Linked DNA regions of Homo sapiens. The protein of the gene in region 2 purifies or fractionates together with the protein of the main gene of each other region. This does not show direct contact. Each region holds a gene or a part of one and is shown on either strand. Other genes may lie near its edges. The genes, in order: ZNF668, PRR11, REXO4 and RRP12.

The links.
Region 1: the proteins of PRR11 (region 2) and ZNF668 purify together in Homo sapiens (affinity purification with mass spectrometry; 3 studies listed by BioGRID and IntAct, with this or other methods). This does not show direct contact.
Region 3: the proteins of PRR11 (region 2) and REXO4 purify together in Homo sapiens (affinity purification with mass spectrometry; 3 studies listed by BioGRID and IntAct, with this or other methods). This does not show direct contact.
Region 4: the proteins of PRR11 (region 2) and RRP12 purify together in Homo sapiens (affinity purification with mass spectrometry; 3 studies listed by BioGRID and IntAct, with this or other methods). This does not show direct contact.

Annotation. Positions count from the first base shown.
Region 1 is NC_000016.10:31,060,335-31,064,263, forward strand, and holds the end of ZNF668 (zinc finger protein 668), read right to left. Parts: coding exon 3,479-3,929; intron 1,947-3,478; coding exon 734-1,946; 3' UTR 513-733; downstream 1-512. UniProt on the Homo sapiens protein: May be involved in transcriptional regulation. May play a role in DNA repair process.
Region 2 is NC_000017.11:59,200,739-59,207,237, reverse strand, and holds the end of PRR11 (proline-rich protein 11), read right to left. Parts: intron 5,676-6,499; coding exon 5,607-5,675; 3' UTR 529-5,606; downstream 1-528. UniProt on the Homo sapiens protein: Plays a critical role in cell cycle progression.
Region 3 is NC_000009.12:133,414,976-133,422,259, forward strand, and holds the start of REXO4 (RNA exonuclease 4), read right to left. Parts: upstream 3,036-7,284; 5' UTR 2,870-3,035; coding exon 2,645-2,869; exon of another isoform or gene 687-2,644; intron 37-686; coding exon 1-36.
Region 4 is NC_000010.11:97,356,316-97,363,350, forward strand, and holds the end of RRP12 (RRP12-like protein), read right to left. Parts: intron 4,304-7,035; coding exon 4,231-4,303; intron 2,696-4,230; coding exon 2,628-2,695; intron 2,305-2,627; coding exon 2,222-2,304; intron 882-2,221; coding exon 779-881; 3' UTR 386-778; downstream 1-385.

The DNA.
Region 1 (3,929 bases), on a different chromosome or scaffold from region 2:
GACAGGGTTTCACCATGTTGACTAGGCTGGTCTCAGAACTGTTGACCTCAGGTGATCTGCCTGCCTCAGCCTCCCAAAGTGCTGGGATTACAGGTGTGAGCCACCACCACCAGGCAATTGAAGACGTATATTCTATGAAGAAATGGGTAGATTTTAATGAACAATACCCCTTTTGTGGGCAGATTCCTAAGTCCCAGGCCCTCACAACAAAGGGGCAGTGGGCCTGGAGATGCCAGCTTCAGCTGCCAGAGGGACTGCTCCTCCAGGGCCACCCCAGCCCACTTTTGATCACCAAGTTTTGATCACCAAGAATCCCAAGAAGGGCACAGGGAATTTCCTTTCTTACCTGCCCATGAAACCTTTTGTCACTAGACATCCTGAAACATACTTTGGGAAACTGCATCCAAAGACCCTTCTAGTTTCAAATCTGTGGATCCAGGGGTCTCCACTGAACCTTACCTGATGCCCAAACTCCCACCCATTCACTCCCAACCAGAACACAGAAGATGACCTGGTGCCAAAATGAAAGCTTTAATGAGTGTTACTCCTAGACAGTCACGTCTCAGCTTCTGCCAGCCTCCACTGTCCCAGCTCTCTTAGCTGGCCGACAGGGGAGCTAGTTGCTGAGGGGTAGGGATCTGGAGTCTAAAGAGCAGAGCCAGGCAAAAGGAGGTACAGGAAGCCCCCGATGGGGGCTGGGCTCCCGGAGTGTGGTGCTGGGGGGTCATGGGCTTCAGGCCGGCCCCTCTTCAGGCATTCCTAGCAAAGCCACCAGGGGCTCCAGGGGTGTGGGGGTCCCCATGGGCACAGGGTGGGTGCGTTCATGCTTGCGCAAGTCGCTGGCACTCAAGAAGGCCTTGGGACAATGGGGGCAGGTGTAGGGGCGCACTGAGCTGTGAGTGCGGCTGTGTTTGCGCAGCCCAGCCCGGTCAGAGAAGCTCTTGCCGCACTGGGTGCAGGGGAAGGGCCGGAGCTCCGGGTGTGAGCGCTCGTGCCGACGCAGCAGCGTCATTGTGGAGAAGGTCTCCTTGCACTCTCGGCACACAAACTGGGGGGGCTTCTCGTCAGCCTCCTCACCCCCCGCCTCGCCTGCCCCTTCCAAGGGACCAGGAGCCTCCCGGACACCAGCATCTTGGCATTCCACATGCTCCACCGTCATGCCCACCACCTGCCACTGTGTGGCCATCACACCACCTGACTCCGGGGGCAGCCCTAGCAGCCCTGCTGGAGGGTCCCCCAGCCCCGCCCCTGCTGCCGGGGCGGCTGAACTCTCACCTGCCACGCCCACAGGCAGCGCCAACCCCACCACCAGCTCCTGTGCAGGGGGCACACCCGCGGCCTCACTGCTTCGATGGGTCCGCTCGTGCTTCCTCAGGCTCGACGACACCACAAAGGATTTCCCACATGCGTTACAGTGGAAGGGGCGCTCCCCCGAGTGCACCCGGCTATGCTTCGTGAGGCTGGCACGCTCGGCGAAGGCTCGCCCGCACTCCTCACAGCGGAAGGGCCGCTGGCCAGAGTGCACCAGCGCGTGCCGCTTGAGGTCCCAGGACGCCACGAACGTCTTGTCACATTGCAGGCACTTGAACGGCCGGTCGCCTGTGTGCACACGCCGGTGCATGGCCAGGTCCGCCGGCTGCCGGAAGTCCTTGCCGCACTTCTCGCAGTGGTATGGCTTCACCCCTTCATGGGCGCGCTGGTGGCGACGGAAGCTCGAGGGGTCGGAGAACATGCGGCCGCAGCGCGGGCACAGGAAGGGCTTCTCCCCCGAGTGCGTGCGCTCGTGGCTCTGGTAGGAACTGAGCTGCGTGAAGCCCTTGCCGCAGGCCGGGCAGCGGTAGGGCTTCTGTGCCGCGTGGATGCGCTGGTGGCACGTGAGCGAGGATGAGCGGGAGAAGCTCTTCCCGCACTCGGAGCAGAGGAAGGGGCGCTCGCCGGTGTGGGACCTGCGGGGGTGTGGAGGACTTGGCATGAAGGCGACAGACCCATAACGTGACCCCACTGCCTGTCTGGGCTGTACTTTAGGGGCTCCCCAAACGTTCGTGGGGGCCTAGGCTTAATCCCCTAAGAGCCACATGGCTGCACCCCAGAGGAAGAAGCCTTCAGGCTGGCTGGGTGTCTCTATTCCAAAGACCTGTCTCTGCACATTAAAGACCAAGATATGGGCCGGGCGCGGTGGCTCACGCCTGTAATTCCAGCACTTTGGGAGGCCGAGGTCAGGAGATCGAGACCATCCCGGCTAACACGGTGAAACCCCGTCTCTACTAAAACTATAAAAAATTAGCCAGGCGTGGTGGTGGGTGCATGTAGTCCCAGCTACTCGGGAGGCTGAGGCAGGAGAATGGCGTGAACCCGGGAGGCGGAGCTTGCAGTGAGCCGAGATCTTGCCACTGCACTCCAGCCTGGGCGGCAGAGCGAGACTCCGTCTCAAAAAAAAAAAAAAAAAAAGAAAAAGAAAAAAAAAAAAGACCAAGACATGGCCAGGCGCGGTGGCTCACGCCTGTAATCCCAGCACTTTGGGAGGCCGAGGCGGGCGGATCACCTGAGGTCAGGAGTTCAAGACCAGTGTGACCAAAACGGAGAAACCCCGTCTCTACTAAAAATACAAAATTAGCCGGGCATGGTGGCGCATGCCTGTAATCCCAGCTACTCGGAAGGCTGAGGCAGGAGAATCGCTTGAACCCGGGAGGCGGAGGTTGCGGTGAGCCGAGATCGCGCCATTGCACTCTAGCCTGGGCAACAAGATCAAAACTCCGTCTCAAAAAACAAACAAACAAAAACAAAACAAAACAAAACAGAAAACCAAGATACGTGTCCTCCGCCTTTTTTTTCCTGTTCCCCAGGCTGGAATGCAGTGGCCTGACCATAGCTCACTGCAGCCTCGACCTCCCAGGCTCAGGCCATCCTCCCACCTTATCCTCCCAAGTACCCGGGACTAGAAGTGTACATCCCCACGCTCGGGTAATTTTTTTATTTTTATAGAGACGAGGCTTGCTGTGTTGCCCAGGCTGGTCTTGAACTCTTGGGCTCAAGCAATCCTCCTGCCTCAGCCTCCCAAAGTGCTGGAATTATAGGCGTGAGCTATTGTGCCCAGCCTAGAAACATGTCATTAATGTAGAGGCTGAGAAAAAGAAAAAAAAAAATGACCTAGACAAACCAGGCCCCACTCACACCTCCTGGTCTCCACAAAAGACCCTCAGAACTGCCCAACTCCAAACCCCGCCCCCTTTCCAGCTGGCCTACAACGGAGGCCAATCTGACCCAATCCCATTCTCAGAGATCAACCTCAAGGTGGTTGCCACCTCTGCCCAATCAGGGGCACCAATTTCTCCCACATGCCTAGCCCCTCCCCTTGGATCTGCCATGCCCACCTTCCCATTGGCTCACTTTACCCTGAGACTCAAACCCAGGCCCCATTGGCTGCAGCAACGCTGTCGCCCTGCCCCGGAAGGCGCCCTGCCCCGGAAGGCACCCTCACCGCTCATGGTTGCGGAGGTCCTTGAGCTCCGCATAGGCTTTGCCGCAACGCTCACAGCTGTAGGGCCGCAGGCCAGCGTGAGTACGCCGGTGCTTGCGGAACACTGAAGGGTCAGCAAAGCTCTTGCCGCAGTCGGCGCAGGCGTAAGGCCGCTCGCCTGTGTGGCCACGCTGGTGGATCTTGAGCTTGGAGAGCGCGCCATAGGCCTTCGGGCAGTGCGCACAGCGGAAGGGCAGTTCGCCAGCGTGCGAGGCCAGGTGCACGCGCAGGCACACGGGCTGCATGAAGCGGCGGCCGCACTCGGGGCACGGAAAGGGCTTCTCCCCCGTGTGGCTGCGCCCGTGGCTGCGCAGCTCGGGTGCCGTCTTGTAGGCCTTGGGGCATAGCGGACACGCATAGGGCCTAGGCTTGGCCGCGGAGCCTGACACCTTCTCCCCACTGGCTTCCTCTG
Region 2 (6,499 bases):
CGGCTAATTTTTTGTTTTTTGTAGAGACAGGGTCTTGCAATGTTGCCCATACTGGTTTCAAACTCTTGGCCTCAAGTGATCCTCCCACCTCAGCCTCCCAAAGTGCTGGGATTACAGGTGTGAGCCACTGTGCCTGGCCCCCAAGCCTATAATTTTTTAATTTATATATTTTTCTATACTTAACATATACTTTTTTTTTTTTTGAGACAGTTTCGCTCTTGTTGCTCAAGCTGGAGTACAATGGGGCGATCTCGGCTCACTGCAACCTTTGCCTCCCAGGTTCAAGCCATTCTGGCTCAGCCTTCCCAGTAGCTGGGATTACAGGTGTCTGCCACTATGCCCGGCTAATTTTTGTATTTTTAGTAGAGACAGGGTTTCACCATGTTGGCCAGACTGGTCTCGAACTCTTGACCTCAGGTGATCTGCCTGCCTCGGCCTCCCAAAGTGCTGGGATTATAGGCATGAGCCACCGCACCCGGCCAACATTTACTTTTCTATAGGTATTATATTTCTAGTTTAAAAAGAAGGTTAGAAAGAGAAAAACCAAAACTTTTATTAATCTTTATTTTAAAACATAACCAGATGCACCTTGGTTGTTTACATTCTCTGGTTGCCATTCAGTCTCAAAGTAAACACTGGGAGCATATGATAAATCGTAGTTTAAGGAAGCCATAGCACTTACAGAGTTCTCAAATGGTTACAATATAAAATCTGTCATAAAAATCAGTAAAAGATGCAAGGTAGAACACATTTTAACACTGGTACAATGGCAGTAGCAGCTTTGCAAATGTTTGTCTATATGATTTCCACAGGACTTTTTTTTTTTGCCTGGCCTCATTATGTAGCAAAGCATTTTTTCTTTTCTTTTTGAGATGGAGTCTTGCTCTGTTACCCAGCAGGCTGGAGTGCAGTGGTATAAACACAGCTCACTGCAGCCTCAACCTCCCGGGCTCAAGTGATTCTTCCACCTCAGTCTCCTGAGTAGCTGGGACTACAGGCACACATCACCGCTCCCGGCTAATTTTTCGTTTTTTGTAGAGTTGGGGTCTTGCAGTGTTGCCCAGGCTTGTTTTGAACTCTTGGCCTCAAGCGAACCTCCTGCCTTAGCCTCCCAAAGTGCTAGGATTATAGGTGTGAGCCACTGCACTGGGCCATAAAGCATTTTTCTTTTTCTTTCTTTTTTTTTTGAGACAAGGTCTCACTCTGTTGCCCAGACTGTAGTGCAGTAGTGTGATCTCAGCTCACTGCAACCTCCACTTCCATCGTTCAAGTGATTCTCACGCCTCAGTCTTCTGAGAAGCTGAGACTATAGGCACATGCCACCACACCCAGATAATTTTTATATATTTTTTTTGGTAGAGACGGGGTTTCACCATGTTGGCCAGGCTGGTCTCAAACTCCTGACCTCAAGTGATACACCCACCTCGGCCTCCCAAAGTGCTGGGATTACAGGTGTGAGCCACTGTGCCTGGCCCCCAAGCCTATAATTTTTTAATTTATATATTTTTCTATACTTAACATATACTTTTTTTTTTTTTTTGAGACAGTTTCGCTCTTGTTGCTCAAGCTGGAGTGCAATGGGGCGATCTCGGCTCACTGCAACCTCTGCCTCCCAGGTTCAAGCCATTCTGGCTCAGCCTTCCCAGTAGCTGGGATTACAGGTGTCTGCCACTATGCCCGGCTAATTTTTGTATTTTTAGTAGAGACAGGGTTTCACCATGTTGGCCAGACTGGTCTCGAACTCTTGACCTCAGGTGATCTGCCTGCCTCGGCCTCCCAAAGTGCTGGGATTATAGGCATGAGCCACCGCACCCGGCCAACATTTACTTTTCTATAGGTATTATATTTCTAGTTTAAAAAGAAGGTTAGAAAGAGAAAAACCAAAACTTTTATTAATCTTTATTTTAAAACATAACCAGATGCACCTTGGTTGTTTACATTCTCTGGTTGCCATTCAGTCTCAAAGTAAACACCGGGAGCATATGATAAATCGTAGTTTAAGGAAGCCATAGCACTTACAGAGTTCTCGAATGGTTACAATATAAAATCTGTCATAAAAATCAGTAAAAGATGCAAGGTAGAACACAGTTTAACACTGGTACAATGGCAGTAGCAGCTTTGCAAATGTTTGTCTATATGATTTCCACAGGACTTTTTTTTTTTTGCCTGGCCTCATTATGTAGCAAAGCATTTTTTCTTTTCTTTTTGAGATGGAGTCTTGCTCTGTTACCCAGCAGGCTGGAGTGCAGTGGTATAAACACAGCTCACTGCAGCCTCAACCTCCCAGGCTCAAGTGATTCTCCCACCTCAGTCTCCTGAGTAGCTGGGACTACAGGCACACATCACCGCTCCCGGCTAATTTTTCGTTTTTTGTAGAGTTGGGGTCTTGCAATGTTGCCCAGGCTTGTTTTGAACTCTTGGCCTCAAGCAATCCTCCTGCCTTAGCCTCCCAAAGTGCTAGGATTATAGGTGTGAGCCACTGCACTGGGCCATAAAGCATTTTTTCTTTCTTTCTTTCTTTTTTTTTTTTTTGACACAGGGTCTCACTCTGTTGTCCAGACTGGAGTGGAGTGGTGTGATCTTGGCTCACTGCAACCTTCACCTCCAGGATGCACATAATTCTCGTGCTTTAGCTTCCTGAGTAGCTGGGGCTATAGGCACATGCCACCACGCCTGGATAATTTTTATTTTTATTTTTGGTAGAGACGGGGTTTCACCATGTTGGCCAGGCTGGTCTCAAACGTCTGACCTCAAGTGTTTTGCCCGCCTCAGCCTCCCAAAGTGCTGGGATTACAGGCGTGAGCCACTGTGCCAGGCCTTTTTTTTTTTTTTTTTTTTTTTTGAGGCAGGGTCTGGCTCTGTTGCCCAGGATGGAATACAGTGGCACAATCTCAGCTCACTGCAACCTCTACCTCCGGGGCCCAAACCATCCTCCCACCTCAGCCTCACAAGTAGCTGGGACTACAGGCACACAACATCACACCTGGCTAATTTTTTTGATTTTTGGTAGAGACGGAGTTTTCATCATGTTGCCCAGGCTGGTCTCAAACTCCTGAGCTCAAGTCATCCACCTGCCTTGGCCTCCTAAAGTCCTGGGATTACAGGCGTGAGCCATGGTGCCCGGCCCTAGCATTTTTTTAATGATCTCTTATCCCACAAGAATGGTCAAGTCATTTAGCATTAAATGAATAGAGTACACAGTGGTTTACAATATTATAAACATTATAAGCGCCCCATAAAATATTATTGTTATAAATACTCAACTGCTTTATTCTCAGTGATTATTCCCTTTATTTTTACATAATGTAAATGTAGCTAGCAGGTTTAAAAAAAAAAACTTTTACTAGAAGCTGATATATATCTCTTAACGTCACTACCCATTTAATTTTTTTTTTTTTTTTTTGAGACAGGGTCTCTTGCTCTGTCACCCAGGCTGGAGTGGCAGTGTTGCAATCTCGGCTCACTGCAACCTCTGCCTCCCAGGTTCAAGTAACTGGGACTACAGGTGCGTGACACCACACCTGGCTAATTTTGTATTTTTAGTAGAGATGGGATTTCACCATGTTGGCCAGGCTGGTTTCGAAGTCCTGACCTCAAGTAATCCGCCTGCCTCGGCCTCCACAAGTGCTCGGATTACAGGCATGAGTAACCGCACCCGGACACCTGTTTAATTTTCATCCATAAATGTGTTATAAATATAGATGTGGATCTCTGGCCGGGCGTGGTGGCTCACGCCTGTAATCTCAGCACTTTGGGAGGCTGAGATGGGTGGATCACCTGAGGTGAGGAGTTCAAGACCAGCCTGGCCAACATAGTGAAACCCCATCTTTACTAGAAATACAAAAATTAGTCAGGCGTGGCAGTGCGCACCTGTAATCCCAGCTACTCAGGAGGCTGAGGCAGGAGAATTGCTTGAACCTGGGAGGTGGAGGTTGCAGTGAGCCAAGATTGCGCCACTGCACTCCAGCCTGGGTGACAGAGTGAGACTTCATCTCAAAACAAAACAAAACAAACAAACAAACAAACAAAAATCTCTATATATAGATGTGGGTCTCAAAAACAGGACTGCCTCTTAGGTGGTAAACACTGTCCCCAGGTCTGCTTTCTAGTCTGATGACTTTACAACAACACTCTATTTGGCATCTCAATGCAATATTTATCTGTAGAAATACAGTCTTTCTGGGGAGTTGCTTTTTACTTTTTAGAGATGAGTTCTTGCTCTGTTGCCAATGCTGGAGTATAGTGGAACAATCATAGCTCACCATAGCTTCAAACTCTTGGGCTCAAGTGATCCTCCCACCTCAGCTTCACAAGTAACTTGGACACTTAGACTACAGGTGTGCGTCACCATGCCTGGGTAATTTTAAATTTTTGATAGAGACAGGGTCTCGCTATGTTTCCCAGGCTGTATTACTGTCTTTGATTACATAGGTCAGTGACAACAGGGAACTAGGTCTCACAGTGACCTGCTATGGACTTCAGAGATTCCTTGGCAAGGCATTGTCGAAAATATAAGGTTCATGTTGAAGTTGTCATAAAATTTTTATGTAGCTGTATAAATGTGGACAGCAGATATAAAAATAAGGAATACCTTAGACTTCTGTAAGCCAGATATAAGTACCTACCTAAGATGCTAGAAATGATATTCTAATTTAAATTTTTTTTTTAATTTTTAGAGATGGGGTCTTGCTATGTTGCCCAGGCTGGAGTAGAGTGGCTATTCACAGGCATAATTATAGTGCACTACAGCCTCAAGTGATCCTCCCTTCTCAGCTTCCTAAGTAGCTGGGACTATAGGCATGTGTCACCACAGCTGGCTGATTTTTGTATTTTTAATAGAAACGGGGTCTCCCTGTATTATGTTGCCCAGGCTAGTCTTGAATTCCTGGGCTCAAGCAATCCTCCCACCTTGGCCTCCCAAAGTGGTGGGATTACAGGTATGAGCCAAGAGGCTATTTTTTTACTGTCATAACTGCACCTATACAGTACAAACTAGAGTTATCTAGTTAAATTTGAACAACCTCTCTAATCTAAATTGGGTAATTCCAGGATAAACATCACTTTGGAGATTGTATTTTCCCATCTGGTTCTCTTAATCATCATGCAAACTAGAAAATATCCAAATATCTGTATATACACTTTATATCACAGTATGTGTGGGCTCCATACATACTCTAATTCTCCAAATGCAATTATATTAGTATATCTATATAAACCCTACTACATTAAAAAAAAGGATTTGGGTGGGTTTTTTTTGTTTGTTTGTTTGTTTTTGTTTTGCTCTTGTTGCTCAGGCTGGAGTGCAATGACGCGATCTTGGCTCACTGCAACCTCTGCCTCTTGGGTTCAAGCAATTCTCCTGCCTTAGCCTCCCGCATAGCTGGGATTACAGGCACCCGCCACTATGCCCAGCTAATTTCTGTATTTTTAGTGGGGAAGGAGTTTCACCATGTTGGCCAGGCTGGTCTCAAACTCCTGACCTCAGGTGATCCACCTGCCTCAGCCTCCCAAAGTGCTGGGATTACAGGTGTGAGCCACTGCACCCAGCTGGGTGTTTTTATCTGTATTTGTTATGGATCATCTCATGGAGTGAGGCAGAGTTGGCATCAGTTTTGTTCATCAAAGCTGCTTGTAGAAAGTGGCAGAGTTGGAGTTGGGCTTCTAGGGTGAGCCAGCTATAAAAAAAAAAAGTCCCAATTATAATATCAATTATATTCCTGTGATAAGTACAACTCTCCTTTCTCAACAGAACCCAGAATTTTTGCATGGCAACACTGCATTCAGATTGTAAAAACCACTTTTCCCAGTTTCCCTGATGCAATCAGAAGTTCCTGGATAGGGCTTCTTTGAAGAAATGAGGCATAGCTTAATTAACATTTGCCTTTCTCCTTCTCTTGCCTAGAATGTGGACATGAGGCTTCAGGAAATGTAGGCATTTTGTATTAAGAGGATAAAAGCCACACATTAAGGATGGAAGAACAGTGATTATATGGTGAAGCCACTGTATTATAGTTGTGGACTTCCTACTGCCCAAAGAAATATTTAAATTAAAAAAATAAGTCCGGGAGCTAAGCTATGAGGATGCAAAGGCATAAGAATGATACAGTGGACTTTGGGGACTTGGGGGAAAGGGTGGGGTGGGGTGAGGGATAAAAGACTATACATTGGGAACAGTGTACACTGGCTGGGTGATGGGTGTGCCAAAATCTCAGAAATCACCACTAAAGAACTAATTTGTGTAACCAAACACTTTCTGTTCCCCAAAAACGTATTGAAATAAAAAATAAATTTAAAAAAAAAAAAGATAGTTGTGGGCCGAGGACGGTGGCTCACGCCTGTAATCCCAGCACTTTGGGAGGCCGAGACAAGAGGATCACTTGAGCCCAGGAGTTTGAGACCAGCCTGGGAGATATAGTGAGACTTCGTCTATAAATTTTAAAAAAACAGGCTGGGCCCGGTGGCTCACGCCTGTAATCCCAGCACTTTGGGAGGCCGAGGC
Region 3 (7,284 bases), on a different chromosome or scaffold from region 2:
CTTTTCTGGGGCCTGAGATTTTTGTTTCAGCAGCCACTGGGACCCAAAATAAAATACATGCTGCATTTGAATTTGGAAATTACACACAGCAGATTGAAAAAACTTACGTGTGTATGTATATACACACATATACACCAAACACATCTATACAATTCCCATCCGCATCACTGAAATTCATTTTCAAACGGTTTGGAAAAAGCTCTTTTTCATTCTCATGGGTCACTTGTGGTGAAATGCTGTTTCTTTGCTTATCTTATTATAATGCATTTTGCACCTGCTCCTTCATGCATACAAAATGTCAAACTCATTCTACACCTTGGGTACCTGTTGAGTGGCTGGACACCACAGACCACTTCCCTTTTCAGCTTATCTAGAAAGAATTTTGGAGTTAACTTCCCTCACAGCTTGGGCCAACATCCTGCTACACAGAAATCGCTTTTTTTTTTTTTACAAGATTCCCTGGTTTGCTACTGCTGTGAAGATCTCAGGAAGGTGGGGGGTGTCATAAATGAAAAGAAAAGCTTCTGTCAAACTGGAGTGGCTGAAGAACTGCTAGCAGCCACACACCTTGGCTGTCACCCAAGCAGAGGCTCCTGTAGTCTTAGAGCCCAGCTTCCTCCCTGTGTTCAAATCCCCAGTGGGAGTGGGCGCCACCACAGTGCGATGATGAGGCGGGTGCTACTTACCTGTTCTGTGATAGGTAAAGAACTGAAGGGCTGACTTTCTTGGATGAATTAGAAAACACTCCAAAGTTTCCCTATAGCACACATCCCTTCCATTCACTTATTTTGCTTTTCTTTCTTGGGAGAAGGAAGAAGAGTTGGTGTTCAAGAAATCCCACAGAACCCTGGGGCTGCCCACGGGAATTTGACTGGTCCTGTGTGTTAAGACAGGAATGTCTGCACTGAGATACTGTGCAGAGTATTAGGAGGTTCAAGAAGCGCTCGGGGAGGCTGAGGTGGGAGGATTGCTTGAGGTCAGGAGTTGAAGACCAGCCTGGGCAACAAAGTGAAACCCCATCTGTATTAGTTCATTGTGCACTGCTATAAAGGAATACCTGTGTTTGGTAATTTATAAAGAAAAAACGTTTATGTAGCTCATGGTTTTGCAGGTTGTACAAGAAGCATGGTGCCAGCATCTGCTTCTGGTGAGGCCGAAGGAAGCTTCCCATCATGGTGTAAGGTGAAGGGGGAGCAGGTGTGTTGCGTGGTGAGAGAGCAAGCAAAAAAGGTGCTAGGCTCTTTTTAAACAACCAGCTCTCAAATGAACCAGCAGAGTGAGAACTTACTCGTTACTGAGGGGAGGGCACCAAGTCATTCATGAGGGATCTACCCCCATGACCCAATACCTCCTATGGGCCCCATCTCCACCACTGGGGATCACATTTCTTTTTTAAAAAAACTACTTTTTACTTTTATTTAGAGATGGAATCTCACCATGTTGCCCAGGCTGGACTTGAACTCCTGAGCTCAAGTGATCCTCCTGCCTGGGCCTCCCAAAGTGCTGGGATTACACGTGTGGGCTACTCGGGAGGCTGAGGCAGGAGAATCACTGGAGCCCAGGCAGCAGTGAGCTATGATCCTAACAGGAGGTAGCTCCAAGGGAGCTCCAAGGGATGTGGTAAGAATGTATGAGTGACGCACGTGGAAGAGTGTCTAGGAGAGAGCAGGCAACCTCTACAGAAGTGCAGGTCACTAGGGAGACAGCAGGTACAACACAGCCTTAAAAGCATGGACTCCAGAGTCAGCCACCTGGTTCCCAGCCGCAATCTTAGATGATCTATTTAAACTTTTCCAGCCTATTTCCTCATCTGTACAATAGCGATGATGGAAGTGTCCACCTCACAGTCTTATTGTGGGGATTGCAACACGCATGGCATAGAGCACATGGCAGAGTGCACATTTTTAGGAGCTCAATTAGTATTTACTTCAAGACCGTAAGTGTCGCTAGAACCCCATCACATGTCTGCTATCTGCTTTTCACTTCTACACAGGAATCTTCTTTCTCCCTGTCTTGCTACACAGACCAGTGTGTTCTTTCGTTGTTGTTGTTTGAGATGGAGTCTCGCTCTGTCGCCCAGGCTGGAGTGCAGTGGCGCGATTTCGGCTTACTACTGCCTCTGCCTCCCGGGTTCAAGCGATTCTTCTGCCTCAGGCTCCCCGAGTAGCTGCGACTACCGGCGCGCGCCATCACGCCCGGCTAATATTTTTTGTACTTTTTTAGTAGACACGGGGTTTCACCATGTTGGCCGGGCTGGTCTTGAACTCTTGACCTCAGGGGATCTGCCCGCCTCGGCCTCCCAAAGTGCTGGGATCACAGGCGTGAGGCCCCGCGCCCGGCCTGGTTTCGGGATTTTAAGCTAAATTTCTCTTTGTAAAATCCATTCTAGTTAGTTCATTATGCAAAAGGTACAAGGGTTTATCTTTGCTTTTTTGTACTTGAAATAATTCTTTCATCAATTTCTTTCAAGCAAACAAGTTCGAGACCTCCCTCAACAGGCCACCTTTCTTGTGAAAAGCTGTTTACAAGATTTCGATTCAAATCTGCCTTTACAGGTCTTTTGGGGCTACCCAAGTCTTTCCCTCCGTCGCGTTCTGCGGGAATGAGCTGCGCAGCGCTCCGCCCGGGCCCCCTCAAGCCTCACCTCTTGCAGCGCCTTCCAGTTTTGAGAAAAGTCTTCTGGTGCCTTTGGAGGTCGCACCACAGCACCGGGGCCGCTTGCTGGCTTCTTGCTTACTTCCCGCGCCTTGCTTTTCCAAAACCTTTTTTTCTTCTTGTTTTTCTTCCGAGTGAGCGTCTTGACAGGACCCGGCTTAGCCACGGGGCTGCTCGGGGCGCGCTTGGAGGCGGGGACCTTCGCCTTCCCCATCCTGCTGCCGTCCAGCGCCTGGGCCGGCGGCCACCCGAGACCCCGGCCTCCCCGGGCCCGGCGCCCTGGCAGCACAAGCGCCTGCCCAGGCCAGGCCGAAACACACCCACCGCAGGGACCCCGTCCAGGAAAAGACTCCGGAAGAGACCCCGCACGCGTTGCGCATACCTCAGCACGCACGCTCCAGTCCCCGGAAGCGCTCGTCTCTCCACAACCGGCTGGAAACCGGATCCCTGCCTCTGGTTCCGCGCAGCCTGGGCGGTTCACCCGCACGGGACTTGGGCCGCCGCCTTAGCCAGCGGCATCCGGGGTCATCGACCTCGAGTTTGACTGGGGCAAGCCGAGGACCTCCCCAAGATCCGGGATGGGGATGAGAGATGCGAACGCCGGAAGGGAACTGGGGGGCCGCTGTGTGTGTAGCACCTGGTAGGGCAGCTGAGCTGGGGGCACTGGGCGGTGGGGCTAGTGAGAGCCGGGCTAGGTCGCTCGCCTGCGTCCTGGACTCTCGAGCCTTTCCCGCCTTGGGCTGCTCCTTGCTCAGCCTCACAGCGGCTCATCTTCCACGTACAGTGGGGAAACTGAGGCCCAGGCACCGGGAGGAGTTCCTGCCAGTTCACTCTGTAGCAGGACGAGCCGCAGACAAGAACCCCTCAGACACCGAATTGTAGAAGGAAAGGGCTTTATTTAGTGGGGAGCATCGGCAGACTCACGTCTCCAAAAACCGAGCTCTCTGAGTGAGCAATTCCTGTCCCTTTTAAGGGCTTACAACCCTAAGGGGGTCTGTGTGAGAGGGTCGTGATCGATTGAGCAAGCAGGGGGTACGTGACTGGGGGCTGCATGCACCGGTAATCAGAACGCAACAGAACAGGACAGGGATTTTCACAATGCTTTTCCATACAATGTCTGAAATCTATAGATAACATAACCGGTTAGGTCAAGGATTGATCTTTAACCAGGCCCAGGGCGCGGCGCCGGGCTGTCTGCCTGTGGATTTTATTTCTGCCTTTTAGTTTTTACTTCTTTATTTGGAAGCAGAAATTGGGCATAAGACAATATGAGGGGTGGTCTCCTCCCTTACTTCTGCCGCCTGGGTTCAAGCGATTCTCCTGCCTCAGCCTCCTGAGTAGCTGGGACTATAGGTGCACGCCACCACTCTCTGCCAATTTTTGTATTTTTAGTAGACCTGGGGTTTCGCCACGTTGGCCAGGCTGTCTTGAACTCCTGACCTCCAGTGATCCATCCGCCTCGGCCTCCCAAAGCGCTGGGATTACAGGTGTGAGCCACCGTGCCCGGCCGGGAGTGGGTAGATTTGATGTGCGTGTGTAACAGGCAGAGGTTGATGGAGTAACAGGGAAGTGAGGCTCCTAGGATTTTGGTCTGAGCAATTGGGTGTGGCCATTTATCATCTCAATAAATGTCTGCGGGGAGCAGGGTGAAGTATGGGGGTGGAGCCATGAGCTCCTTTTCACACTTGCTGAGTTTGAACGGGCCGTCAGTCACCAAGGAGAGACGTCTAATCAGCAGCAGGATATAAGATTCCTAAGCTTAGGGAAGGGTCAGTGCTGGAGATGTAATTTGGAAATCGTCAGCACATAATTAGTGTTGAAACATGAACCTGGGTTAGTTCATCCAAAGAGAGAGTACCAATATAGGGAGTGAAGGGTTAAGACCAGATAGCAGGTGCTGGGGGCTCTCCAGGGGCGAAGCAGCAGAGGAGGCTGAGGGGGAGCAGTCAGTGCAGTGGGAGGAGAAGCGGATGTGAGTGGCATCAGAGAATCCAGGGGGAGAATAAACCACATCAGATGCTGCTGAGAGGCTGAGAAGGACGAGGACAGAGAGATGGGAACCAGATATGGCACTGAGATTGTCAGCAAGTCCACCGAAAAGGGTTTTCTTTTTTTTTGTTTGTTTTGAGACGGAGTCTTGCTCTGCTGCCCAGGCTGGAGTGCAGTGGCGTGATATCGGCTCACCACAATCTCCACCTCCCGGGTTCAAGCGATTCTCCTGCCTCAGCCTCCTGGGTAGCTGGAACTACAGGTGCACGCCACCATGCCCAGCTAATTTTTTTTTTTTTTTTGAGACGAAGTTATGCTCTTGTCGCCCAGGCTGGAGTGCAATGGCGCAATCTCGGCTCACCGCAACCTCCACCTCCCGGGTTCAAGTGATTCTTCTGCCTCAGCCTCCCGAGTAGCTGGGATTACAGGCATGTGCCACCACGCCCGGCTAATTTTGTACTTTTAGTAGAGATGGGGTTTCTCCATGTTGGCCAGGCTGGTATGGATCTCCAGACATCAGGTGATCCTCTCGCCTCAGCCTCCCAAAGTGTTGGGATTACAGGCGTGAGCCACCGCACCTAGCCTAATTTTTGTATTTTTGAAAAGAGACGGGGTTTCACTATGCTGGCCAGGCTGATCTCGAACTCCTGACCTCATGATCCGCGTGCCTCGTGATCCACCTGCCTCGGCCTCCCAAAGTGCTGGGATTAAAGGCGTGAGCCACCACACCTGGCCCAGGTTTTCTTTTTAAAAAAGGAAAAAAACTTTGTTCCAGCAGTTTGTAAACCAGGGCAATGCAGCCTTCTGTACAAAGGTGCATTCCAGGGAACAAAGAGAACAAAGAAAGAGGTCGTCTTTTGTAGAGAACTTCCTGCCCAGGTTCCCACTTTGGTCCACTTATGCAAATGAGGAAGGCACACTTGCTTAGTTCTGATTGGTTAATACTTGCTGAGTTCAGATTGGTCGATGCAGGTCACAGTCGATGGGTTGATTCTGGCGGCATAAACAGGAACAGATAGCTGTGAAACCATCCCAGAGTTAAGTGAGAGTGGGGGCTTTCCAGGAACGCAGAATGTGTGTGTGACCCTAGTCAGCAAATGGCTGCTAGGTCCTACTTTGAATTTAGGCCCAGTTAGTAACTTGGGATCCATCAAGAAGGATTGGCTCTTTCAGGGTTCACAAAGTTATTGGTGACCTTTTAAAGATCAATTTCAATGGTATGTGGGAATTGAAGGCAAGGAAGTGGAGATAGCCACTGAAAATAATGTTTCTAAGTTCTTAAAGACAGCCAGAAACAGGGCTATGGCAGGAGGACAGTGTGGGTCAAGGGAAGGTTGTTGATTGTAATCAAGAGACACCAGAGTGTCTGGGCTTGGTGGCTCATGCCTGTAATCCCAGCACTTTGGGAGGCCGAGGCAGTCAGCTCACCTGAGGTCAGGAGTTTGAGACCAGCTTGGCCAACATGGCGAAACCCCACCTCTACTAAAAATACAAAAACTAGCCAGGCGTGATGGCGGGTGCCTGTAATCCCAGCCACAAGGGAGGCTGAGGCAGGAGAATCACTTGAACCTGGGTGGCGGAGGTTGCAGTGAGCCGAGATCGTGCCACTGCACTCCAGCCTGGGTGACACAGCAAGACTCTGTCTCAAAAAACAAACAAAAACCAAAAAGAGACAGGAGAGTCATTCATGCTGATGGAGTGAGCCAGGTACCAGGATCTCGATATCTAAGCATGCCCCCTTCTCCAACAGCCTCCTTACCTTCCTGCATGAAAGCACACCCTTCCCTCCAGTCCCCCATTCCTTTATTCTGCTGTATTTTTCTCCATAACACTTACCACCTTTGAACATACTACATATACAACATGTGTCTGTCTAGCAACTTTGCTGTCTGGCTCTCTTCCCTAGAATTTAAGCTGTGAGAGGCCGAGGCTGCTGTCTGCCTGGCTTGGGGCTGCTTTCCTGGTGTCTAGCACAGAGCCTGGCCTGTTTCAGGGGCTCAGTGAAACATTTGTTGGCTGAAGGAATGAATGAATGGCTCTAGCAGAGGGGCAGAAACTAACGATGCAGGAGGAGAGAGCTGGGAAGGGATCCAGAGCCAGGGCCTGGCAGGAAGTGTAGGTGTGTCCTCCCTGATCGCAGAGGAGGAGAGAGGCTGCACTTTGAGGGGTGGAAAGACAAGGTGAATCCCCCTGCTGGTCATCAGCTTGTGCGGCTCTGTGGGTGTAAAAGAGTGGTTTGGAGCATGTGAAGTGAGTCTTCCAGGAGATGAAGGGGATTGCCAGGCCGTTTGTGATGATGCTGAGATCTGGTGCCGTGCAGCCTGCTTCTGCGACTCTCCTCATCAGGCGCAGGCACAGAGTAGGTGGAGAGTTGAGCCAGAACCACGATGTCTTTGGCACAGCCTCTCATCTGTCAGATGGGAGCGGGGACCCCGGAGAGGGAGTCAGCCGAGGTCCTGGCATTCCTTGTGAACCCCCGTCTGTGGGTTTCTGGTCCAGTGTCCCTTCTCCAGATTAGATGGCTTAGGCCTCCTCTAAGGGGGTGGGCGTGCACATCCGGAGAGCTGTCTGGTGTGCAGGACTGGGCTGCAGGTTACCCTGAACTGCAACCATCTTAGAGCAAGGCCCAGCTTGCAGCAG
Region 4 (7,035 bases), on a different chromosome or scaffold from region 2:
CCCCTTGTCTGGGAAAAAAAGAATGTGGGAAGACACGGAGGTGAATGAACAAGGCTATGCTGGGCACTTAGAGGGGCTCAGCAAATACTTTGTTGAATCAATGAACAAAGATGCTGGAGAGACTTGTGCCCAGGACAGCTGGGGCAGTCCCTGGTGCTGAACTGCAGCTCCCGACACCAGCCCTGGGGCATTCGCTGCCCCTCCTGACACAGGTGGGTGCTCCCGGGCAAGTTCCAAAGCCTGTCCTATGGGCAAAGCCTTATGATATGCCCTGGACTGGATGTAAGGAGTTAGACAGGAAGAGGTCAGGCCACTGCTGCCAACAACTGCACACTGTTCTTACCCCTGGAGGGGGCAGACTATGAAACAGTTTCTAGAAAAAAAATGCAGGATGAGACACATTTATTCTACATCTGGTCACAGTAAATCTCACCCAGACCACAGGCAGGATGCCACGTGGCTACAGGCAGCTGGCGGAAATGGAGATCATCTGTTCTGGTGCTCATGGCCACTCTGGGCAGAAAGCAAAGGTGCCTCATGGCACCTACTCAGAGGCACTGAGGCCACATTCCCATCTCCAGGCACCAGGGATGTCTCTGAAGGGTGATTCCATTTGGAGTTTCCAAAATCCAGGACTTCTGAGAGCCAAGCCCTAGTTCCAAGTCATCCTGAGTCCAGGCTCTGCCAGAATCTTGAGCACCTGGAGCTGGTGGCAAGGCAGCCTGGGGGCTGAAAGGGCCTCAGACTGGACCACAGGGCAGCCCAGGGGCCCTGGGCCTCAGGGTCGACGATCCTTTCTGCGGTTTTTGTGTCCCACCTGGGAACCTCGCCGGGCAGCCTTCACCAGGCCTTTGAACTGTCCCTGCAGCTTCATCTTCTTCCTGCAGGGCCAAGGAACGGAAGGGTCACATCTGGCTGAGAATAGGAGGCCCCCTCCTGTTGCCAAATGATGGCTCACCCCCAGCGCCAGCAGGGATGAGAAGGGGGCCTCCAGGTGGTGGCCAGCACATGAACTAGGCAGACCTCACGTGGTTCCAGCTTCCACACGGCTCATGTCCTGACCTGGACATTCCACTTTGGCACAATTATCCCCCTGGAAACAGGCCTCCCTTCCATTTTTCCTCTAATGTATGTCCAGAGAAGGTCAAAGCTCCCTCTGCCCACCCATCCCTCCATTGAAAGGTAACTTACAACCCGCAGAAGCTAGAACTTTACAACACCATTTCCCTAGTAACATTAGTTTCCAAAGCAGTCCTACACATAACCCAATTTAAGGGCCAAAGTCGGAAACAACTCTAATTTCCTACCAATAAAGGGATTAGAAAAGCAAATTATACAAAGCTATTAAAAATGATGACTATGGCTGGGCGTGGTGGCTCATGCCTGTAATCCCAGCACTTTGGGAGGCCGAGGTGGGCAGATCACAAGGTCAGGGGATCAAGACCATCCTGGGTAACACAGTGAAACCCCGTCTCTACTAAAAATACAAAAAAATTAGCCGGGTGTGGTGGCGGGTGCCTGTAGTCCCAGCTACTCCGGAGGCTGAGGCAGGAGTATGGCGTGAACCCGGGAGGCAGAGCTTGCAGTAAGCCGAGATCGTGCCACTGCACTCACTCCAGCATGGGTGACACAGCGAGACTCCGTCTCAAAAAAAAAAAAAAAAGATGACTATGTAGAGTATGTAAATACCAGAAAACATCTGTATGACATAATATCATGTTTAAAGAAGCAGTTCAGGGCGGGGCACGGTGGCTCGTGCTTGTGATCCCAGCACTTTGGGAGGCTGAGGCATGCAGATCATGAGGTCAAGAGATCGAGACCATCCCAGCCAACGCGGTGAAACCCCATCTCTACTAAAAATACAAAAATTAGCTGGGCATGGTGGCACGCGCCTGTAGTCCTAGCTACTCGGGAGGCTGAGGCAGAAGACTAGCTTGAACCTGGGAGGCAGAGATTGCAGTGAGCCAAGATCGCACCACTGCACTCCAGCCTGGCGACAGAGCAAGACTCTGTCTCAAAAAAATAAAAAAATAAAGAAGCAGTTCAAGTCAGTAATACAGGTAGGTACCAGCTACATGATATAGGTGCATGTTAAAAAAAAAAGCTGGAAGAGACTCAAATTGAGCTGAGAGTTTAATAAGGCCTTCCCTTCTTTAGAGCACTCTGCTCCCTCATCCCCACCCATCCTCCAGCCCCCAGCCTGCCTGGCACAGCGTCATACCTGCGGTTGAGCTTGCTTCTGTTGAGGGGGATGTAGGCATAGGGATCCGGCCGGCCTTTCTTCTTCACATCACCTTTTGCTTTCTGCTTGCCCAGAGAAACAGAGTCAGCTAGGAGGGTGGGGTTCCCCTTCTGTCCCTGCCCTAGACTTGACAGGCCCCATAACCTCCCTTCATCCTCTGCCTTAGGTGGTGCCAAAGAGCTCCTGTATCCTTGGAAGGCCATTCAATAAGGTCCCCCATTTCAGATGCCACAAGGTCTTAGCATCTGAACCCCTTCTTCTTTCCTGGCCTCAGTTGAGTTCCAGGAAGGTGCCTCTCAGGACAGTGATGGGCACAGCTCCTCCTTGCCCCTCCCTGGCACCTGTCCAGTGCCAGGAGACCCCATGCCCTACATGCAGCACTTACCTTGGCCTTGTATTCAGCCCCAGGCATAGCCTTCTTGGCCACAGGGCGATGAATGCCAGAGCCTCCAGCTACGGGGAGAACACAGGACCATGAGTCAGGCAAAGCCAGGGCAGCCCCCTCCAGAAAGGCAATGGGCACCCTCTCTGAGAGAGCTGCAAGGGAGCAGATGAGTGAAGGCCAGGAACTTGGCTCTGTCCCCTATCAAACCAGGACAAAGACCTTCCTCGAGGAGGGACTGTCTGGTGATTTGACAGTTAGATCACTGGGCTCCTCAGACTGACCCAGAAGCCTTACAGCTTACCAGAGACCTCTGGGAACACATATATTCTCCGCTAACACACTAACAAAAAATAACCCATATTCTCCAAAGTCAGACAGAATTCAGCCAGCCAGCCAGCCAGGTTCAACTCCCAGCTCTGCCACTTACAGCTCCAACCTCAGGCAAGCCTCTTAACCTCATCTGTAAGAGAAGCCATTTTAGGCTTTCCCTTCTTATCTCATTTGGGTTTCACACAAACACTGAGATAGCAGGTAGCTATTTAACCCATTGTAACAGATGTGAACACTGTGGCTTAGAGAGATCAAGATCCTTGCCCAAGGTCAGCTGTCTTCTCCAGCCTGGACTTCAACATTCAACGACAAGTTGTGGATGGAATCCTACCATGCCAGCTCAGGAGGACTCTCTGAGACGACCAACACGAACCACCCCCATTCCTCATGTTTTTGCAGATGAGAAACTAGAAGCTCAGAGACAGACAGTGTAACCAGGCCAAGGTCAAACAGCTAAGCAGAGGTTGGGCAAGCAGCCCTGACCCCAGGTCTCTGCCTCATCAATTGGCAGGTACTCCTGCCTCAGCATCACTCCATCCCAGGGCACAGTAGGTGAGCTGGCCCTGGCTCATGGGTGCCACAGGCGGAAGAGCCATGAGGTTGTGCAGCTGCGTTATGATGCTCTAGGGCTGAGGACACACCAGCTACTGGAATCAGAGGCTTCCCACAGGAGCCCCTGGACCTCCAGATGCAAAGCAAGGGCTCTGCTGCAAGGGCTTGGGGGCAGGGGTCCTGCAAGGCTACCCTGGGAGGAAGGAAGCAGAGGTGAAGCCACCTTGGCACTTCTAGCAGCTGCTCTAGGAGGGCAACAGCTGGTGGGCCCAGAGATAGAAATAGAGGGGAACCCTCTGGCCAGACCCAATACCAACCTTCCCAGTTCCCAGCCCTGGCACCGGCCAAGTGGCTTCTCTAAACCCAGCCTGACTCGGTTGGTGCTCTTAGGGTGACCAAGAGAGGCAAGCAGCTCGCAGAAGGGACAGACTCAAGCCTCTTGGGAGGCCTGGGCGGGTGGGAAGGAGCTGTGGCTCAGGGCTCCTCAGAAGGCTGGTGGTTCCATGCACAGATCTCCTAACCCATAGGCTCTCTCACACCCCCAGGGCCCCTTAGACTCCAGGCCCATCTTGAGTGTCATATCAGCCAACCTCTGTTGGTGCCAAGTGAGTGCAACCAGGCTGTGCACCCTCATGGCCCTGCCACCCCTTCCTGTGACTCCCCTCCCTAATGCAGGTGACAGGGATCCATGTGTCCCAGGAGAGAGGAGTGGAAGCCTCACCTTGGTACTGAGGGGGTATCTCCAGCTCCTCCTCCTCAGCCTCTTTCTGGTGCTTGAGCTTCTGGTGCTTTTTCTATAGAGAGAGAATAGGTGGGTAGTGAGTGAACCAGGGGATGTGCCCACCCTCGGGAATGCCAACAGTAACAGCAGAGTACCCTGCATCAAGCAGGAGAGGCCCTCTGCTAAGCACCCCACCTCTCACTTACAGATGGGGAAACTAAGGCCCAGAGAGGGCAAGGAACTGTCCAAGATCACAAAGCCAGGCAGTGCAGAAGAGAAGCTCTGGCCATGTCCTGACTGCCGGGCTGGTGGCGGCCGTTCCTGCTCTTCCTTTCCACTCTGGGCCCCACCCAGGCCTGCAATTGCCCAGAGGGCTTCTGACATCAGCTTACCCAGCCTTCCTAATGGGGAAAATGAGGTCCCTGGCCTCTTCAGAGAGAATAGCTTTACCAGTTCTTTGCTTCACACAAACCCCACCCCACTCTCCCTATTAATCACTCACTTACTGATCCCCTACTAAGTGCCAGGCCCTGGGGACACAGGGCACAAGATCTAGTTCCTGTGCTCCACGGGCTCTCAGGCGGGTGGGAGACCCCTGCTCAAGCCAGTCATCACTGATCCTCAACAATGCTACCATCCCAGCAGGTATGATCATGGACAGTAAGACACGTCAGCTCGTCAATTATATTCAACAGGAAGTGACAGAGCACCTACTGTGCGCCTGGCACTGTGTTAGGCAGTCCAAGGGAAGGAGGGAGAGCCCGACAGCGGCCCCAGCCCATCAGATGTGAGCCTAGAACCAACAACCAGGCCAGGCAGAGGCGTGCTGTGCAGGGAGGGCAGGCAAACAGAGGTGGCCCCAGCTGGCAAGGCTGGTCCCTGCACTGTGGTCTGTGCCACTGTGCCCCAGAAACCTCTAGAAACTGCAGATTCCCAGGGCTCCAGCTACCCAGGGGATCCAGAGGCCAACCAGGGGAAAGGTATGCCAGGTAAAGGGATCGGCCTGGGCAGAGCGAACAGGCTGCAGCACACACAGGGTGTGCCTGGGAGACGGGGGACTCCAGGTCCACTGGCCGAAGCCCAGCTGAGTGGGCTCCTAGTGGAGAAACAGGAACCGGGAGGAAGCTGACTCCGACTGCAATGTAGGGGATGATGGCTGAGCTGGCTCTTGGTTCAGCTGGTGCTTGGCCAACAGCCCAGCCTGCTGGCCCTGAATGGAGGCAGCTACTTGAACCCCAGCACTTCATGCTTCCACAATGGTTGGCCGAGGAGTTAGAACTTGGCCGGGCCCGGTGGCTCACGCCTGTAATCCTGGCACTTTGGGAGGCTGAGGTGGGTGGATCACGAGGTCAGGAGTTCGAGACCAGCCTGACCAACATGATGAAACCCCATCTCCACTAAAAATACAAAAATTAGCTGGGCGTGGTAGCATGCACCTGTAATCCCAGCTACTCAGGAGGCTGAGGCAGGAGAATCACTTGAACCTGGGAGGGGGAGGTTGCAGTGAGCCGAGATTGCGCCACTACACTCCAGCCTGGCGAAAAAGTGAGACTTCATCTCAAAAAAAAAAAAAAAAAAAGAGTTAGAACTAAGTGCCATGCAAGAAACCCTCTGGGGGTCTCAGTGGCAGGAGCCAGCCACAGAATGCAACTGCCCTGGGGCCCTCTCAGTGCCTGGAGACAAGGCATCTGCTCAGTCCCGCTCTGCCCGGGGCAGTGGGGGACATCCTTAGAAAGCCGTGGTCGGTTCTCCCCGGCCAGGGAGAGGAGTAGGCTGCCGAGGATCTGCAAAGCCACATGTGAAGATGTGCTTAAGGAACCCAGGAGGCTTTGAATGGAAAAAGATTTCCAGGAAAAGTGAATAATCAAGTCACAATGGCTTACTTTGCATCACTAAGTGGCAAGCACTGTACACAGAAACAAAGACTTGAGCCCAGGCAGTCTGGGCCCAGACACACGTTTGGCAGACGACTGCCATCACCTGGAGAGGGAGACTAGACTGGCCTGAGGGTGGCCTCTCGGAGGGGCCCATGTCAGACCAAGCAGAGGAAGGACTCCCAGTAGGTGAAGCTGTCCCACAGGAGTGGTTGCCTGGGCGCAGAGAGGGGCAGGAGGGTTTTCAGCAGAAGCCCCACTGCTTTTCCTCAAGGGCATCCCAGAGGGGCTTCCCGCATCAGAGGCTGCTCAGGTCCTCAGCTACTCTCTGACCCAAGACTCTGGATATGTACTCAGCTCTTCAAACAGAATTCTGCGCTGTCACAATGCTCTAATAACAAACTCCTCCTCGGGCCACACTGGGCAGATGGACACTTGGCAAGGCATATGGGCAGACATTGACAAACATGACGCCAATGAAAACGGGGATGTGGGGGAAGTCTGTAACACTTCAGGCACTATGCTAATGCACTTTACACGCCCAATCTTACCAAACTGTCCCAATGACTCCACCAGGTGGTCTATTTATAACCCCACTTTACAGATCAGGAATTGAGGCTTTAAAAGGTTAGGCTGAAGCCAAGATGGGACCCCAGAGTCTGCCGCTTCCCCACCGATATCACTATACCCTGATGTAGGCTCTGTCACCTACGGGTGGTGCCCAGGAAGGCTGGATGGGCTGGGGCATAGTCTGGAAGGGCAGAGAGGGAAGAAACTGCTCCAGAATGGAAATGTTCCACTGAGCTTGAGACTGACAGGTGTTGGGTGATGGGTTGGGCCCACTTCACCCTTGTTGGTTCAGGTGGGGCAGCTGAGAGGCTGTTTCCATCCTGGCAGGCAGCACTGCCAGGTCAACAGGGGTAATGGTGGC